2 linked regions of the Homo sapiens genome follow. The protein of the gene in region 2 purifies or fractionates together with the protein of the main gene of each other region. This does not show direct contact. Each region holds a gene or a part of one and is shown on either strand. Other genes may lie near its edges.

Region 1 (3,500 bases), on a different chromosome or scaffold from region 2:
CTGTAGTCCTAGCTACTCAGGAGGCTGAGGTGGGAGGATTGCTAGAGTCCAGGAGATGGAGGCTGCAGTGAGCCAAGATCACGTCACTGAATTCCAATCTGGGCAACAGAGTGAGAACCTGTCTCAAAAAAAAAGAGAAATAGTCAGGATTTGAATCCAGGCTAATCTGGCTCCAGAGGTCATGCTCATAAATCCAAGGCTATGTGGGCTCTCCATGCAAATTATTTAATATCAGAATTATGGTTATAATGTTTCCTTTCTCCCTCCTTGTTAAATAAAATCATAACACCTTTCCAGGGGATGAGCATCTTTCCAAAAAACTTATCATCCCTGCACTTGTCCTCCCCCAGACTCTTCCCACTGCTCTGCACACTTTTTGTGCTCTGCCCTGCACCCTCTGCCAGGATTCTCACCTGCCATTTTTTCCTCACAGAAGTGCATCAGCAGAGGGGAGCTCCAGGTGTCTCTGTCATATCAGCCTGTGGCACAGAGAATGACAGTGGTGGTCCTCAAAGCCAGACACTTGCCGAAGATGGATATCACCGGTCTCTCAGGTAGCAGCTATTTACTTCAACCTATTTCTTACTGTCTGAACCATCCCCGACTCCTTGCCTGTGGCCCAGATAGACCTCCACACTTCAAGATCCTTGCCTCTTTCACTTTTAATCTGCTCCTCTTTCTGTAGACATTCTCTTCCTGATGAGTATCTACGTCCAATAGATTTCCCTGGCTAGGAAGATTCTTCAGTTGAACAAATGGGGTCTTTACATTTGGCAAGGTATCCTAAATAATATTCATGCCAGGTGCTAAGAGAGACTTCTCAAAAAGGCTGCAGGCATTTGTCTCTGTGCCCTTTAATATACTTCTTGGTATCATGGGATTTCTTCAGACCTAACCTGAGAAAGTTGTTCTGTTCTATTCCTGCTTGGTTTCCTTGGCCCCTCATCCAGGCAGGCAGACTCACATATAGTCAGTGTGTGTTTATTGTGCAATCACTAAAGAACACATGGGATGGCCATCAAAGATACGAACAACAGAGCCCCCCCTTTCCCAACATGAAATTACCATTACATAGGAGAGGACTGTGTCATAGGTCTGTCTCCCTTTTTCTTATCTCTTTGGGGGCCCCAGATCCTTATGTCAAGGTGAACGTCTACTACGGCAGAAAGCGCATTGCCAAGAAGAAAACCCATGTGAAGAAGTGCACTTTGAACCCCATCTTCAATGAATCTTTCATCTACGACATCCCCACTGACCTCCTGCCTGATATCAGCATCGAGTTCCTCGTTATCGACTTCGATCGCACCACCAAGAATGAGGTGGTGGGGAGGCTGATCCTGGGGGCACACAGTGTCACAGCCAGTGGTGCTGAACACTGGAGAGAGGTCTGCGAGAGCCCCCGCAAGCCTGTGGCCAAGTGGCACAGTCTGAGCGAGTACTAATCCTGTTCTTCTCTCCTCTAATCCCCGGGGGCCAAGCTGGGGAGGGATGTGGAGGGGAAAAAGATGACAGAGAAGTGGACTCCAAACCTCATTTTAGTTGTAGAAGAAAATTTCTTACAAAACAAATTCCACAAAGAACACCCTATATGACCACAGCTGCAGATCAGTTCTTAGCAATGATGTTTTTTTTTCTGCTTTGCAAGGCGCTAGAATCTTTTATTTTACTTTATTTTTTTTGAGGTGGAGTTTCGCTCTTGTTGCCCGGGCTGGAGTGCAATGGTGAGATCTCAACTCACTGCAACCTCTGCCCTCCAGGTTCAAGTGATTCTCCTCCCTCAGCCTCCCAAGTAGCTGGGATTACAGGCACCCACGAGCATGCCCGGCTAATTTTTTGTATTTTCAGTAGAGATGGGTTTCACCATGTTGGCCAGGCTGGTCTCGAATTCCAGACCTCAGGTGATCCACCCGCCTCGGCCTCCCAAAGTGCTGGGATTACAGGTGCGAGCCACCGTGCCCGGCCTCTGGTTTTGTTTTGTTTTTTTTTTTTAATGGGGGACAAAAGAGAGGGAAAGACCCCTATAAATCTATATATAACAATGTAACCATATACTTGCATGTCTAATACAAACTGAAGAAATTAGCCTAACTGCCAATATCAAGTTGCAGATTTTAATCCATGGAAATTGTGTTTTGTGCTGAATTGTATTTGCTGATTACCTGAAATTGGCTTCTTTTTATTGGGCTTCTCTGGAGAATTTCTCCCACTCCCCACCTCTGCAGAAGAAAATTTTGCTCTTATAAAACCTCATGTTTTCATCATTCCCATCTTTTCTTTTTATTGCCTCTTATATCTCTGCTCTTTGACCTCAAGGTCTAGAGGTCTGCAGTAAGCCAAGAAACAAAGGTGGGGTGGATGAGGCAAGGTTTGCAGGAGAAAGAGGAATTGAGAAATGGGGTATTTTTGCTATCAGCTCTTCTGCTATGAAGTAGTAAAAGGCAGTCTATAATTAACTGACAGACCTAACTGAAGCACAGAGAATACATCAGACTTATGCATCCAAGACATCAGAACTTGGATTTTATCAAACTTGATGACTTCTCTAAAAGGAGCTTTGGAAACTTCAAATTCAGCTATAGGATAGTACCAATGAACACATCCAGCTGATCCCAAAAGCTGTTTTCAGGTATAAGGACAAGGAGAGGAGACAAGTGACGACAGCCATTCCCCTTTGCAGCTATCTACTGTAGTGACAGCCATTTCTTGGTTGATGGGTTGGAAGTCATCAGAGGTTTGAAGAATTACACTGGCCTTTGTTTTTCTGGAAATGCCGACCATGGAGATGCTTTAGAGTCTTCTCAAATAGCTTAGATGTTGTAATGAGGTTAGCTTTGCTTCATAAAACAGGGGCCCTCAGAAGTTCTCCTTAAATTTTTCAATAAAAATTTAGCTCTTAAAAAAATAACAGTGTGACTGAGTGAATGAAGATAAGTTGGATTCTTTCAGAGCATTCTTTTCCTCAAAACGAGCTGCATAATTCTTGGAATTTATGTCTTACCACATGGTGGAGGGATGGAGGAACTACAGGATGCAATTCTTCTTCTACCAATGGGCAATAGAGGTTGAGAGAGATTCAGCATCTTTCTGGGATTAGAATTCAAGTCTCTTTACTCCTACAGCAGCTGTGTCTCCAACGTTGAGACTTTGCAGATGGCACAGACTCCATGGATAATAGGTAAACTTGGGGCCGGGCGCAGTGGCTCACGCCTGTAATCCCAGTATTTTGGGAGGCCGAGGTGGAAAGATCGCTTGAGCCCAGGAGTTCAAGACCAGCCTGGGCTACATGACGAAACTCCATCTCTATCAAAAATACAAAAAATTAACTAGGTGTGGTGCTGCACGCCTGTGGTCCCAGCTATTCAGGAGGCTGAGGTGGGAGGATCATTTGAGCCCAGAGGTAGAGGCTGCAGTGAGCCATGATCATGCCACTGCACTCTGGGCTGGGTAACAGAGTGAGATCCTGTCTCAAAAATTAATTAATTAATTAATTAAAATAAACT
Region 2 (3,500 bases):
TGCAGCTCACGGGATAAGAACCAGGAAGAGCACTTGAGGTAGTAGCAGCCAAAGTTGAAAGTCTTGATAAGTAAAACACAAGAACACAAAGTCAGGAACACTAACACTCAAAGGGCCACACAAGTCCAAGGATTGGTGCAGACATACAAGAGAGTGGTTAAGCCCCAGAAGAGGAGTACCTGACTCTAAATGATGTCGCCCATCTTCTTTAGTGGGAAAAGCAGAGTAGAACTGAGTTTCATGGGAGAGAATAATTGGCCTACCTGCAACAGAGAGGACAAGGAGGCAGGTGTAGACAGATTTACCCACTTGAACCCATTATAGCCCTCATCACTGCTCAAACATCACTCTATTATCAACCCTATTGTTTGTGGCAACTAACTCTGCTAATGAAAATAAGTAGTAAGAGTGTAAGACACTGCTGTGGTTGGAATAGGTCTTCCAAAGCTCATGTGTTGAAAACTTAATCCCCACTGCAGTAGTGTTGAGAGGTGAGACCTGTAAGAGGAAATGAGGTCATGAGAGCTCTGTCCTCATGCATGGATTAATGGTGTTACCATGGGAGTGGGTTCATTACAGTAAGAGTGAGTTGTTATAAGGGTGAGTTCAGCCCCCACGTGCTCTCATGCTCTCTTGTCCTTCCACCTTCCACCGTGGGATGATGAAGTCCAAAGGCCTTTGTCAGATTCTGACACCTTGATATTGAGCTTCCCAACCTTCAAAACTGTGAGAAATAAATGTGTTTTCTTTATGAATTATCCAGTCTGTGATATTCTGTTATAGCAACACAAAATAGACTGAAAAGACACTTCGTCCTACTGTTGATTTGCATGATTCTTTCTCTACAGCTACCTCGGCCCTCCTCAGAGCCCAGGAACAGATACCTCCTGGAGTATACCACATCTCCCTGGTACTTACAGACAGTCAGAACAATCGGTGTGAGATGCCACGCAGCTTGACACTGGAAGTCTGTCAGTGTGACAACAGGGGCATCTGTGGAACTTCTTACCCAACCACAAGCCCTGGGACCAGGTATGGCAGGCCGCACTCAGGGAGGCTGGGGCCTGCCGCCATCGGCCTGCTGCTCCTTGGTCTCCTGCTGCTGCTGTGTGAGTAGCCAATGTTTCATTCTCTGTTGGACCAGGTGTCCTCATTTGCAAAGGCCTCCATGCTGCCCTGCTCATCTGTGCAATGGGGAAAGAATATTCTCTGATGTTTTATAGGTAAAGCTAGGGGAAAATGGCATTTTCAGAAAGAATCTGAAATGTGTAACATGTCGCTTGCTAACAGTCTATATTCATATAGCAACACAAGTTATATATGTCAGACATTTAGAAGACAGCACAAGATAATCAAGAGAAAAGCAAATCATGAAGACTTTCTACACACTGTTAGTAATGTTCATGGTCAAAATTATGGCTTTATCCAAGAGTGTGGCACTTTCTAAGATGTTTTCTCTATATTCATTACATCTCATGAGATTCTAAGATAAAAAGAGAACACTAGTCAAACAAAGTTAGGGAAATACAAATAGGGTATCATAGGCTATTAAGATATCACCACATGCTATTAATATTAATTAATTAATTAACCCCCACTAATATTAATCAATAGCATATGATATTAATATTAATATCATATGCTATTAAGATAGCTAGGTTCTGAGAAGTTATTGCTTCATCTAGCATTTCCTCAAAATAGATTGCCATCTGAATATGCATCCCCTTTAATACTTTCACATTTAATATAACTAAGTTTATTAAACACATTTAGAAAACTATGCGTAAGTATCCTTTTCCAATAAAGGTAAAATTTATTCAATAGATAGGTTTCTGAAAAGTTGTATTTGAATCAAAATCATATAAATCAAATAGTATTTGATTGTAAGAGGTCTCTATTTAAAAGAACTTCCTGACTAATTCTTGTATAAACAAGAGAAATCCTTGCTAAATTCACACTTTCTTAATTTATTATAAAAATCACAGTTTTAGAGTTAAAATTAATTATATGATTATTAATTTTAAAACCACAAAAAGTAGAGAAAATGTGTAGACAACTACACATACAACCATCACTTCAACTGAACAGATATGAATGTTTTGCAATATTTTTTCAGGTCCCTTTTTTTAAAAAGAAATAAATTGCTATAGATACAGCTAATTGCCACACATGCTATATTTTTCCCTTCCTTATTCTCCAAAAGCATTTACTATTCTAAAGTTATTATACACCATTTAGTTTAAGAGCTGAAATTGACACTCAGAGATTTGGTTTTTCAATATCGTATTAATCAAGTTCAAGAACCAGAAATTTTTAAGTACCTCTATGTGAATCACTATGCTAGCTTCTAGCTGAAAAGGAAACTTGATTTTGGTTTTCATGCATGTCTAACTATAGGGGAAAAATACCATGATAAAGCTGTAATAGAAATTACTACAAAGGGGTAATTACAGAACATTTCACGGAATAGAGGAATCATTCAATTGAGCCTTGAAGAATGATTAGGATATAATCAGTATAAAAAATGGAAAAGGCATTTCCAAAAATTGACAGCATCAGCCAAGGCCAGAAAACACTTAGTATTTTCTGTTTTAGGAATCACACAGCCTTCGAAGGCTAAAGCGCGGGGAAATTGTGGAAAGTGAAGGAGCAACAGAGAATGCATTGGGACTAATTTGAAAGGGCTACATACACATGCTGTGGTGTTTGTACTTTATCCTATGAGAAAGAGGAGCTGCTAAAAGCATTTGAATAAAAGACTAACATGATCATATTTGTATTTTAGAAAGACAACCCTGGCAACAGTGTGTACAGTATAACAGTGTAAATTAGAAAGGAAAGAACACTTAAGAGGTCATTGTAAAAGTTCAAGAGAGATGATGAAGGTCAGATTTCGAGCTGTGACATGAGACTGGAAAATAAAGGACAAGTGTGCAGTGCATTACAGTGGCCCCTGGAGAGGATTGGGAGATTAATTGTTATGGTCTGAATGTGTGTGTCCCCCCAAAAAAATTCATATGTTGAAACTTAAACCCTAAAAAAATAGTATTAAGGAGTTGGGCCTTTACCTATATTAATTCAATCCTCATAACAACCTATGATGTAGATACTATTTATTCCCCCATTTTATGGATGAGTTAACTGAGCAAAGAAGGATGATATTACATGCCCAACATTACATAGCTGTTAAGTGGTACAGCCGAAATTTAAACCCTAGAATCTGACTTCGGAGGCTGCATGCTTAAACCCCTCACTAAGCTGCCTCTAAGTGAAGAGAGTTGAAACATTAGGATTCAGGTGGCCTTGGCAGGGCAGAGGTGGCAGTGGGGCCACTGACAACAAAGTGTGGGAAACACCTGCTTTCAAGAATAAGTATTTCACTCTTGGTCAGTTCACATGAGAATGACATTAATCTTTATTGCCAAGGATGTGCACAGAAAGATATTTACGCTGCCAGAAGAGTCCTCCAAGCTTAAGCCACAACTAAGAAATTCTTAAAT

Evidence for each region.
Region 1: the proteins of DSG3 (region 2) and SYT11 purify together in Homo sapiens (co-immunoprecipitation; one large-scale study listed by IntAct). This does not show direct contact.

What each region holds. Positions count from the first base shown.
Region 1 is NC_000001.11:155,880,067-155,883,566, forward strand, and holds part of SYT11 (synaptotagmin-11), read left to right. Parts: intron 1-433; coding exon 434-557; intron 558-1,122; coding exon of another isoform or gene 1,123-1,131; coding exon 1,132-1,442; 3' UTR 1,443-3,500. UniProt on the Homo sapiens protein: Synaptotagmin family member involved in vesicular and membrane trafficking which does not bind Ca(2+). Inhibits clathrin-mediated and bulk endocytosis, functions to ensure precision in vesicle retrieval.
Region 2 is NC_000018.10:31,468,241-31,471,740, forward strand, and holds part of DSG3 (desmoglein-3 preproprotein), read left to right. Parts: intron 1-848; coding exon 849-1,109; intron 1,110-3,500. UniProt on the Homo sapiens protein: A component of desmosome cell-cell junctions which are required for positive regulation of cellular adhesion. Required for adherens and desmosome junction assembly in response to mechanical force in keratinocytes.